Linked DNA regions of Homo sapiens: region 1 is linked to region 2. A link means that fine-mapping ties the variant in region 2 to the expression of a gene that starts in the linked region. Tissue or cell type: whole blood. Region 2 holds a variant in brackets; the other region holds the start of a gene. All regions are shown on one strand. Distances are from middle to middle.

What was found.
Region 1: NDUFA12 starts here. The variant in region 2 is fine-mapped to the expression of NDUFA12 in whole blood (INTERVAL, PIP above 0.99).

What each region holds. Positions count from the first base shown.
Region 1 is chr12:95,000,894-95,006,274 of GRCh38, reverse strand. NDUFA12 (NADH:ubiquinone oxidoreductase subunit A12) reads left to right here and starts at 2,578. Exons shown (of 4, transcript NM_018838.5): 1 at 2,578-2,680; 2 at 3,454-3,536. The coding sequence starts at 2,595. RefSeq lists enhancers at 2,456-2,855, 2,320-2,947.
Region 2 is chr12:94,963,949-94,969,329 of GRCh38, reverse strand. No RefSeq gene overlaps it. Among named protein-coding and RNA genes, the nearest start is that of NDUFA12, 37 kb to the left of the region's middle. The variant C/T (reference allele first, on the strand shown) is at 2,055.

The DNA.
Region 1 (5,381 bases), 37 kb before region 2:
AGTATCTGGTCAAGTGATCTTTGACAAGGGTACCAAAGCTACATAGTGGGGAGAGAATAGTGTTGGGAAAACCGGATATCCGCAAGCAAAAGAATGACGTTCAACCTTTACCCTACACCATATACCAAAATTAACTCAAAATGGACTAAAGACCTAAATGTAAGACCTGAAACTATAAAACTCCTAGAAGACAACGGGGGAAGCTTCATGACATTGGATTTAGCAGTGATTTCTCAGATATGATACCAAAAGCACAGACAAAGTAAAAATAGACAATTGGGGCTACATCAAACATAAACTTCTGCATAGCAAAGGACACAATCAACGGAATGAAAAGATGACCTAGGGAACGGGAGAAAATATCCACGATACATAAAGAATGCCTACAACTCAACAACAACAACAAAAAACCCGATTCAAAAATGGGCAAAGGACTTGAATAAACATTTCTCCAAAGAAGATATACAAATGGCCAACAAGCATATGAAAACATGGTTAACATCAGTAATCAGGTAAATGCAAATCAAAACCACAATGAGGTATCACCTCATCATCCATTAGGATGCCCACTGTAAAAAACAAATGAACACAGGTTGGGCGTGGTGGTTCACGCCTGTAATCCCAGCACTTTGGGAGGCCAAGGCGGGTGGATCACCTGAGGTCAGGAGTTCAAGACCAGCTTGGCCAACATGGTGAAACCTCGTCTCTACTAAAAATACAAAAATTAGCCGGGGGTGGTGGTGGGCGCCTGTAATCCCAGCTACTCGGGAAGCTGAGGCAGGAGAATCGCTTGAACTTGGGAAGGGGAGGTTGCAGTGAGCCGAGATCGCACCGCTGCACGCCAGCCTGGGCAACAGAGTTAGACTCCGTCTCAGAACAAACAAACAAACATACAAACAAACACAGAAAATATGTAGTGTTGGTGAGGAGGTGGAGAAATTGGAACCTTTGTGCATTGTTGTTAGTAATGTAAAATGGTGATGCTGCCATGGAAAACAGTATGGGGATTCCTATAAAAATAAAAAATAAAATTTCCATATGATCTAGCAATCCACTTCTGGGTATATATCCAAAAGAACTGAAAACAGGATCTTAGAGATATCTGCACACCCGTGTTCACTGCAGCATTATTCACAATAGCCAAGAGGCGGAATCAGCAGAAATGTTTATGGACAGGTAACTGGGTGGCATATACATACAGTGGAATATTATTCAACATTTATAAAAAGAAGAAAATCCTGTCATATACTACACTATGGATGAGCCTTGTGGATATCATGCTAAGTGAAATAAGCCAGGTCCTAAAAGACAAACACCTCATGATTCTACTTATATGAAGTATCTAAAGTAGTTAAACTCTTAGAAACAGAAGTAGAATGGTGGTTGGCAGGGGATGGAGAAAGAGGAAAAAGTTGTTCCATGGATATAAAGTTTCTGTTTTGCAAGAAGAATAAGTTCTAGAGATCTGTTGCGCAACAATGTGCATGTGGTTAACACTACTGTACACTTAAAAATGGTTAAAATGGTAAATTTTATATTTTGTGTTTTTAACCACCACTACCAAAAAAAAAAAAAAAAAGCTAGGGAACTAAATTGTTATTTTGAAAACACACATAAGGGAAAGAATCGGCTGGGTGTGGTGGCTTACACCTGTAATCCCAGCATTTTGAGAGGCTGAGGCAGGAGGATCACTTGAGGCCAGAGTTCAAAACCAACCTGGGCAACATAACAAGATGCCCATCTCTAAAAAAAAAAAAATTAGCCAGGGGTGGTGGCACTTACTTAAATGGGAGGACTGCTTGAGCACAGGAGTTTGAGGCTGCAGTGAGCTATGATCACACCACTGTATTTCAGCCTGGGTGACAGAGAGCCTGTCTCTAAAATTAAAAAACAAAAAAAAAGTAAGAGAATCAAGCACCCATACTGCCTTTCCTACATTAATTGTATCTCAGGAGCCAAATAGTTGAAGGGAGGTTTCTCTTTGTAGAAGAATTGTGGTTAACAAATGAAGTAATATTGAAATTTTTTAGGCTCAAGCGATGCTCCCATCTAAGCCTCAGCCTACCGAGTAGCTGGGACTACGGGCACGCGCCACCACATCCAGCTAATTTTTAATTTTTTTTTTTTTTTTGTAGAGACAGAATTCTCGCTGTGTTGGCGAGGCTGGTCTCGAACTCCTGGGCTCAAACGATCCTCCCTACCCGGCCTCCCAAAGTGCTGGGATTACAACAGTGAGCCACCGCGCCCACCAGAGCCAATTATTTTTAGATGAGGAAACTGAAATTCCCAAAGGGGGAATCCCCGTGTGAGAAAGCCTCGTGTAGGTGAGCTTTCCAGCATATGCCCGCCTTCTAGATTTAACCTCTGAAAACTAAATTTTAAGGTACCTTTGCTTCCAGGGGAAACCAATTCTGCCTACTTGGGAAGCCAGAACATGACCGCGTAGGCAAGACCTAGCTCTGCGCACGCGCAGAGCCACCACGTCTGGCGTTCGCGTGAGAACCTTCTGGGCGTGGGCTTCCTGCGGCTGAGTGGCAGCTTCCATCCGGTGGGTTTTGCTCGGCGCACCCGGGAGGCGGGGCCAGCGAGGCAAGATGGAGTTAGTGCAGGTCCTGAAACGCGGGCTGCAGCAGATCACCGGCCACGGCGGTCTCCGAGGCTATCTACGGGTTTTTTTCAGGTAGGCGGCCAGAGCCATGCTCTTGGCCTCTGGGGCTGGACTTTCGCTGGCTGATTTCTTGGAAGGGGTCCCAGGCTCGGGTCACCTTGGAGAATCCACAGCTCTTGTCAAGGACAACCGCCCCAATCTCTGCCTTGCCACCCCCAGGCTGGTCTCTGTCCCATATATCCCCGATACAAGACCGAAGCTATCTGTAGAGTCAGAGCTGTGACTCGGAGGCAAGGGCATCTGGGCTCCCCTCTTTTCCCACGCCCTGGAGAGTAATGAGGATTACAAGACATTAACTCAGTGACCCTGGTAAAGTTTTTTTCCCTGCACTGCCGTACAGTTCCTTGTCTGTAAGGCGTTGAAGGTAATAATGATGGTCCCTTCTCTTCCTGACATTCACTGATCCCACGAGCAGCATAGTTTCGCAGAAACCTAAATGGAGACCCAGAGTGGAATGAAAGAGCCTGGAGACCTTCGTATCATTGTAAGAAGATGAAATACTTTGGCTTTTTGATTTCCTAAAGGTTTTGCTAATTCCAGTGCCTCCTGGCTGAGGGATAGTAGATACAAGTAGTCCTGTAATCTGAAGAGACTACATTTATATTTTTAGTGTAATTTGAGCACATCAGTTGTCAATTCATCTTTTCCCATCCCCAGCACTTCTTCATTTTGCTAGTTGATGCAGCAGCCCTTGTGTCTGAAAGTTGTTACTCTCACTTTATTTCCGTTTATGTTTTGAACTAAGAATCATTCTAAAATGTCTGTTTTCTTTTGGGTATTCACAGGACAAATGATGCGAAGGTTGGTACATTAGTGGGGGAAGACAAATATGGAAACAAATACTATGAAGACAACAAGCAATTTTTTGGTGAGTGCAGTATTTTTTAGTATGAATAATTGGATTGGGATTGGGATTTGATTTGAGTCTATTTTCCATATTATGCAATGAGCTTTTACAAAACACCTGGAAAAGGATGAAAAACTCAATAGAAAATGAAAAAAGATAATTTACAGAAAAAAGAAAAGTAAACAGCCAATGAAGGTATGGAAAAATGCTCATTCTCACTTGTAACAACAGAAATGCAACTTTAAAAACAGTGTTATATATTTTTCACCTATCAAATTTTGAAGTGTTTTTGTTCTTTTTTTTTTTTTTTTTTTTTTTTTTTGAGATGGAGTCTCTGTCGGCCAGGCTGGAGTGCAGTAGCGCGATCTCGGCTCACTGCAACCTCCACCTCCTGGGTTCCAGCGATTCTCCTGCCTCAGCCTGCCTGAGTAGTTGGGACCACAGGCGGGCGCCACCATGGCCGGCTAATTTTTGTATTTTTTAGTAGAGATGGGGTTTCACCATATTGGCCAGGCTGGTCTTGAACTCCTGACCTCGTGATCCACCCGCCTTGGCCCCCCAAAGTGCTGGGATTACAGGCGTGAGCCACTGCGTCCAGCCTTGAGTATTTTTCAAGCTGATAAATCCCAATGTGGGCAAAACCATATAAATATGTAGGTTAATGCAGTCTTTTTGGAGGGATAATTTGGTAACATTTGTAAAAATTTACATTGCACATATCCTTTGTCTCAGCACTTCCACTTTTAACAATTAATTCGGCTGGGCGCGGTGGCTCACGCCTGTAATCCCAGCACTTTGGGAGGCGGAGGCGGGCGGATCACGAGGTCAGGAGATCGAGAGCATCCTGCCCAACGTGGTGAAACCCAGTCGCTACTAAAAATACAAAAATTAGCTGGATGTGGTGGCGTGTGCCTGTAATCCCAGCTACCTGAGAGGCTGAAGCAGGAGAATCGCTTGAACCAGGGAGTCGGAAGTTGCAGTGAGCCCAGATCCCGCCACTCTACTCCAGTCTGGCAACAGAGCGAGACTCTTATCTCAAAAAAGAATTAATTCTACAAATATTCTTGCAAACCAACATACATCACAGCATTGTTTTATTATATTTTAAAAATTTATTTATTTATTTAATGTTGAGACAGGGTCTCGCTCTGTCACCCAGTCTAGAGTGCAGTGACTCGATCATGGCTCACTACAGCCTCAACTTTCTGGGCTCAAGCTGTCCTCCTACCTCAGCCACCCAAGTAGCTGGGATTACAGGCATGTGTCACCATGCCTGGCTAATTGTTTAAAAAAATTTTTTTTTGGAGAGACGAGGTCTTGCTATGTTTCTTAGGCTGGTCTTGAATTCCTGGGCTCAGGTGATCCTCCCACCTCAGCCTCCCAAAGTGCTGGAATTACAGATGTGAGTCACTGTGCCTGGCCACAGCATTTTTGTTTGTTTTTGTTGTTGTTATTTTGAGACAGGGTCTCACTGTCGCCTAGGCTGGAGGCAGTGGTGTGATCTTGACTCCCTGCAGCCGTGACCTCCTGGGTTCTAGCCTTCCTCCTGCCTCAGCCTCCTATGTAGCTGGGACCACAGTCATGCACCACCACACCTGGTTAATTTTTTAATTTTTTTAAAGAGATGGGGTCTCACTTTGTTCCCCAGGCTGGTCTTGAACTCCTGGGCTTAAGCCATCCTCTTGTCTCAGCCTCCCAAAGTGCTGGGATCACGGGCATGAGCCACCGTGCTAGTAAATTTTAAAAGCAACATTAGTGTGCGTAAGTTGGATACTGATGAATTAAACATTTTTTAGAATAGTTTGTTGTTGTTTTTTTATTTTAAGTTCTAGGGTACATGTGCACAACGTGCAGGTTTGTTACATA
Region 2 (5,381 bases):
GATTGGGAGACTTATTGAAGTCAGAGACAAATTTCTCCAGGAGAATCACAATGGAAGCCCACAGGACTTTGGAGCAAGGTCATACCCCCTTCTGGAAGATTACTATTCTCCTTTTGAGAAACGGTTCTAATTTGCTTCTGGGGATGTTGGAGGCTATGGGACACCAGGTGCTATTTAATCCATCTACTCATAAAGTTGACCATTTCCAGCAGCACTCCATCACCTAGCAGGTGGGACCAGACAGGCCATGAAGACACATTTCCTTTGAACAGATTTCTCCCGACCCTGTGCCTTTAACTACTCTATTCCCACACCTCGCCCCTACCAATCTGTCCCTTTACCCTTGTGGAGCATTATTATCCAGTTAACTGAAAATGAAAAAAACCAAACCTGGCTTACAGATACCATGAACAATAGGCACTATCAGCTAGAAATGTACTGTGTATATTTGGGGTGGTCTTGAAGGACAGTAGAGGGCAAATCTCAATTTGTAGGCAGAATTCCAAGCACTGTCTTTTATCATGTACTTTGACTTGAGAGAAACATGATCTGAGGTGAGGATCTGTAACCGTAACCAGTCACTGGCTAGATAGTCAGAGATGGAGAAAAGCAACATGGAAGATTAGTGTAAAAGTTTTGGGAGGAGCTTGGCAAATGAACCTTGAGGCTTGGAGCTGTAATCCAAAAAGATTTAGAACAAAGTAGCCAGATGATTACTGAGATCACCTTCTGGGAACAAATCTTTGTCTCAGTGCCTACTTCTTGAAGATCCCAACAGAAAACACATATCTAAGCCCAGTATCGTCAATGCGGCAAGTTCATTTCACGGGACTTCTTCCATATTGGAGGGAGAGATGATTTGTTTTTGTGGGAATAGGCACTTATTCTGAATTTGGGTCTGTTTTCCTTGCCTATCATGCCTTGGTCAACATCAGCATTCATGGGATTAGAATGCTTTCTACCTTGTCATATGTAGGACAGTGTCCGTGGTGGAGAAACTCACTTCACAGAAAAGAAAAGAGGCCTAGTGCAGTGGCTCACACCTGTAATCCCAGCAGTTTGGGGGGCCAAGGCAGGCGGATCACCTGAGGTCAGGAATTCGAGACCAGCCTGACCAATATGATGAAACCCCGCCTCTACTAAAAATAGAAAAATTAGTCAGGTGTGGTGGCATGCGCCTGTAATCCCAGCTACTTGGGAGGCTGAGACAGGAGAATCACTTGAATCCGGGAGGCGGAGGTTGCAGTGAGCCATTGTACTCCAGCCTGGGCAACAAGAGTGAAACTCCCGTCTCAAAAAAAAAAAGACAGTGGAACTGCCTGTGGGAGTCCCTGCTTGTGTTTATGATGTGCCTTACTGACCTACCTCTCAGATATCATCTCTCATTTCTCCCTGCATCACCCACTACAGGTCAGCCACACAAGCCTCTGTCTAATCTTCAAAGACTGGATTCATTCTCGTCTTAGGTCTTTGCACTTGCTCTTCCTTCTGCCTAGAATATTAACATCTTTGTGTTGCTCCTTTTTTTGGTATCATTCATATCTTACTTTACAAGTATCACCTCCTCAACAGAATGTTCTGTGTCCATCTAATCTAAAGTAGCTTCCTCAGGAACTTCCTATTATTGTTTATTTGTATGAATTTCCTTGTTTTATTTTATTCATAGTACTTATTGTTACTTTTTGGGAAAAGGCCTGAACAAAATTATTCCAGTAAAGAATCTGTGTATTGAGCATTTACTAAACAGCCACTGTCCACCTACAAAAGCACTCTACATGTAGACATAATGAAGCAAAACTGTATTGATTAGATTTAGGGCAGGGTGCAGTGGCTCACGCCTGTAATCCCAGCACTTTGGAAGGCTGAGGCAGGCAGATCATCTGAGGTCAGGCGTTTGAGACTAGCCTGGCCAACATGGCAAAAACCCGTCTCTACTAAAAATACAAAAATTAGCCATGCATGGCGGCACATGCCTGTAGTGCCAGCTACTCAGGAGGCTAAGGTAGGAGAATCGCCTGAATCTGGGAGGCAGAGGCTGCAGTGAGCTGAGATCA[C/T]GCTGCCGCACTCTGGCCTGGGCCACAGAGAGACACTCTGTCTCAAAAAAAATAATAATAATTTTTGTTGGAGGTGAGATAGTGACTGAAATTAAACAGCGGCAGCCCAGAACAGTAAATTCTGAAGTTTCAGAAAGTAAGAATTCTTGTGGGAAATAACATCTAAACATGCAAATAGTTATACATAGGAAATTTCTAAAGTTTCATTAAGCAATTTTTACAGGAAAAAAAGAACACTAATTACCATGATGTCATGCTGTGTTTCCAAAAAATTGGTGATCATTTCAAGGGTTTGCAATCACTTGTGTGATCAGCTTGCAAAGACCTGTCGGTCTATATCCCCGCTTTCAAGTCATCCTTCTATGAATGGAGATGTCCTGTTCCTAACATTCTTCTCAAATACAAGTTAATTCATACACTGGTGCCAAGTGCCCATAGTATGAAATGCACACATCATAAGAGCATAGTAATGGAGCCATATTTATCAGCTCTGGCTCCAGGAAGTTAATGTCTGTGTATATTTTTTGTTTTTTAGGCCGAGTCTCACTCTGTTGCCCAGGCCGGAGTGCAGTGGCGCAATCTCGGCTCACTGCAACCTCCATCTCCTGGGTTCAAGCGATTATCCTGCCTCAGCCTCCTGAGTTGCTGGGATTACAGATGCATGCCACCATGGCTGGCTAATTTTTGTATTTTTAGTAAAGACGGGGTTTCGCCATGTTGGCCGGGCTGGTCTCCAACTCCTGACCTCAAGAGATCACCCGCCTCAGCCTCTCAAAGTGCTGGGATTACAGGCGTAAGCCACCGTGCCTGGCCAGAAACGCTGTTTTCCAGGCTGATGTCTGCTGTCTGAGAACCTGGTTCTACATGTGCCTGAAGTACATTCACTTACACTCTTCAATGACATGAACCAGTAAATGAACCAGTAAATTTCCCCAACTATTTTCTTATAGCTTGACTTCAAATCTGTATTGACTTATGCTTCTTTCACTTGCAGCTGAATGTCCTCACTGATACAGCATCCTTATGGCTTTATTACTTCTCCTCTAGTAATAGAATTTGTTACTGCTGTGTACTATCTTCCTTTCTTTCTTCATTTTCCTTTCCTTTCCCTTTTCCCCTTTCCTTTCCTTTCTTTCTTTTTTTTCCCCCCTCCCCTTCCCTTCCCTCCCCTCCCCTCTCCTTTCCTTTCCTTTTTTTTTTTTTCTTTTTTTTCCCAGACACAGGTTCTTACTCTGTTGCCCGGGCTGGAGTGCAGTGGTGCAATCATGACTCTCTGCAGCCTCGACCTCCTGGGCTCAAGTAGTCCTCCCACCTCAGCCTCCCAGGTAGCTTGAACTATAGGCATACACCACCATGCCCAGCTAGTTTTTTAATTTTTTATAGAGACAAGGTCTTCCTATGTTGCCCAAGTTTGCTTGCTCCTCTCCTCTCCCCTCTCCTCCCCTCCCCTTCCCTTCCCTCTCTTTCTTTTTTTTTTGACAGAGTCTCACTCTGTTATCCAGGCTGGAGTGCAATGGCGTTATCCTGGCTCATTGCAACCTCTGCCTCCCGGGTTCAAGTGATTCTCCTGCCTCAGCCTCCTGAGTAGCTGGGATTACCAGTACCCGCCACCATGCCCTGCTAATTTTGTATTTTCAGTAGAAATGGGGTTTTTCCATGTTGGCCAGGTAGGTCTCGAACTCCTGACTTCAGGTGATCCACCTGCCTTGGCCTCCCAAAGTGCTAGGATTACAGGCGTGAGCCACCATGCCCAGCCAGCCACCTTTCTTACTAGATGTAGCCCTGATTATTAATCTTCTGATTCATAACTCTTGGCATATTATGAACCAGTAGTGTTTGCCAGGATTTATTACTATAAGCTAATAAATAGCTTTATTTAAAAACTTAAAGTTTGTGTTGAAATGGATACATGTATTCCATAAAACCTCTGCATGTACATTTGAGGATATATCCGGGCCTTTAAAATTTCTGTAAGTGATGGCTCTACCTGATTCCAGTTGCAGAGAAGTCAGATTTACAGATTTGCCTGCATGTAGCCTGGACTTGGAAGTTTGAGCCACAATAAAATTGCTAAAAAAAAAAAAATTGGCAGTCATTTTTATGTCACTAAATAAGGGTAAGCATCAGCCTCACAATTTTAGGTGATGTATGATACTCTTTTCAAAGTAATACAAAGGGGATGGAAAAATTACATGCAAGAAAACCTGGATCCTAATTTGAAATTTATTTGTTTATTTATGTATTTTTTTGAGACGGAGTCTTGCTCTGTCACCCAGGCTGGAGTGCAGTGGCGCGATCTCGGCTCACTGCAAGCTCCGCCTCCCAGGTTCAAGCCATTCTCCTGCCTCAGCCTCCCGAGTAGCTGGGACTACAGGCGCCCACCACCATGCCCGGCTAATTTTTTGTATTTTTAGTAGAGATGGGGTTTCACCGTGTTAGCCAGGATGGTCTCAATCTCCTGACCTCGTGATCCACCCGCCTCGGCCTCCCAAAGTGCTGGGATTACAGGCGTGAGCCACTGTGCCCAGCCCCTAATTTGAAAATTTAAATATTAACTTACATGAAAAACTATTTTCTCAGTTTTGAGAAATGAGAAATCACCCTCCCAAAGTGCAGGGATTACAGGCGCGAGTGCTCTCTCTTTGCAGGTAGGATTAATAAAATTGCAATGTTAAGAATTTCATCTAAGGCAACACAAATCACTAGAACCATTAATTCCAACTTGAGCTAAGTGAAAAAATAAAAAAATTACTCATGGAAGAAGTAGTCAGCCATATAAAAAGGTTGTTGCATTTAGAGGCAGCTTGCCCTACAGGCTGACCTGAATTTCTCAGTTTGAGAATTGCGATAGCCATTAATATTTGTCACACAGCTGTGCTTGTCCCAGCTCCCTTACGGTCTCCACACACCCAGCCCCCACAACCCTAAATTAAAACCCTTAACTAATTTTCCACTGGTGAAAAACTAAGATTTCACTCTCACATTTTCTCTTGTGGTCACTTAAAGCAAAGTTTCTCCCCTACGTTTGACGGAGGAATGGCTGCCTTGCCCTCATTTCTTGTTTGTCTGTATTTGCTCGTTGAGTTTGATGTTGAGATTTCTTTTAGGATCCTAGAATTGGCACTTATCTCATCGTACACACCGCAAGTGTGTCTACTCTATTTTTGGAGTACATTTAAAAATCTAATAAGTTAACTTGTTTGTCCAACTGTATGGCACATTTATATAATTTATGATTCAATAATTATTTTCAATGAGATTGGGCATGTTTAGGGTGGTGTGGTTGTGGACTGAATAATTATTTTGGAACACTCAGTTGTTAGAGTT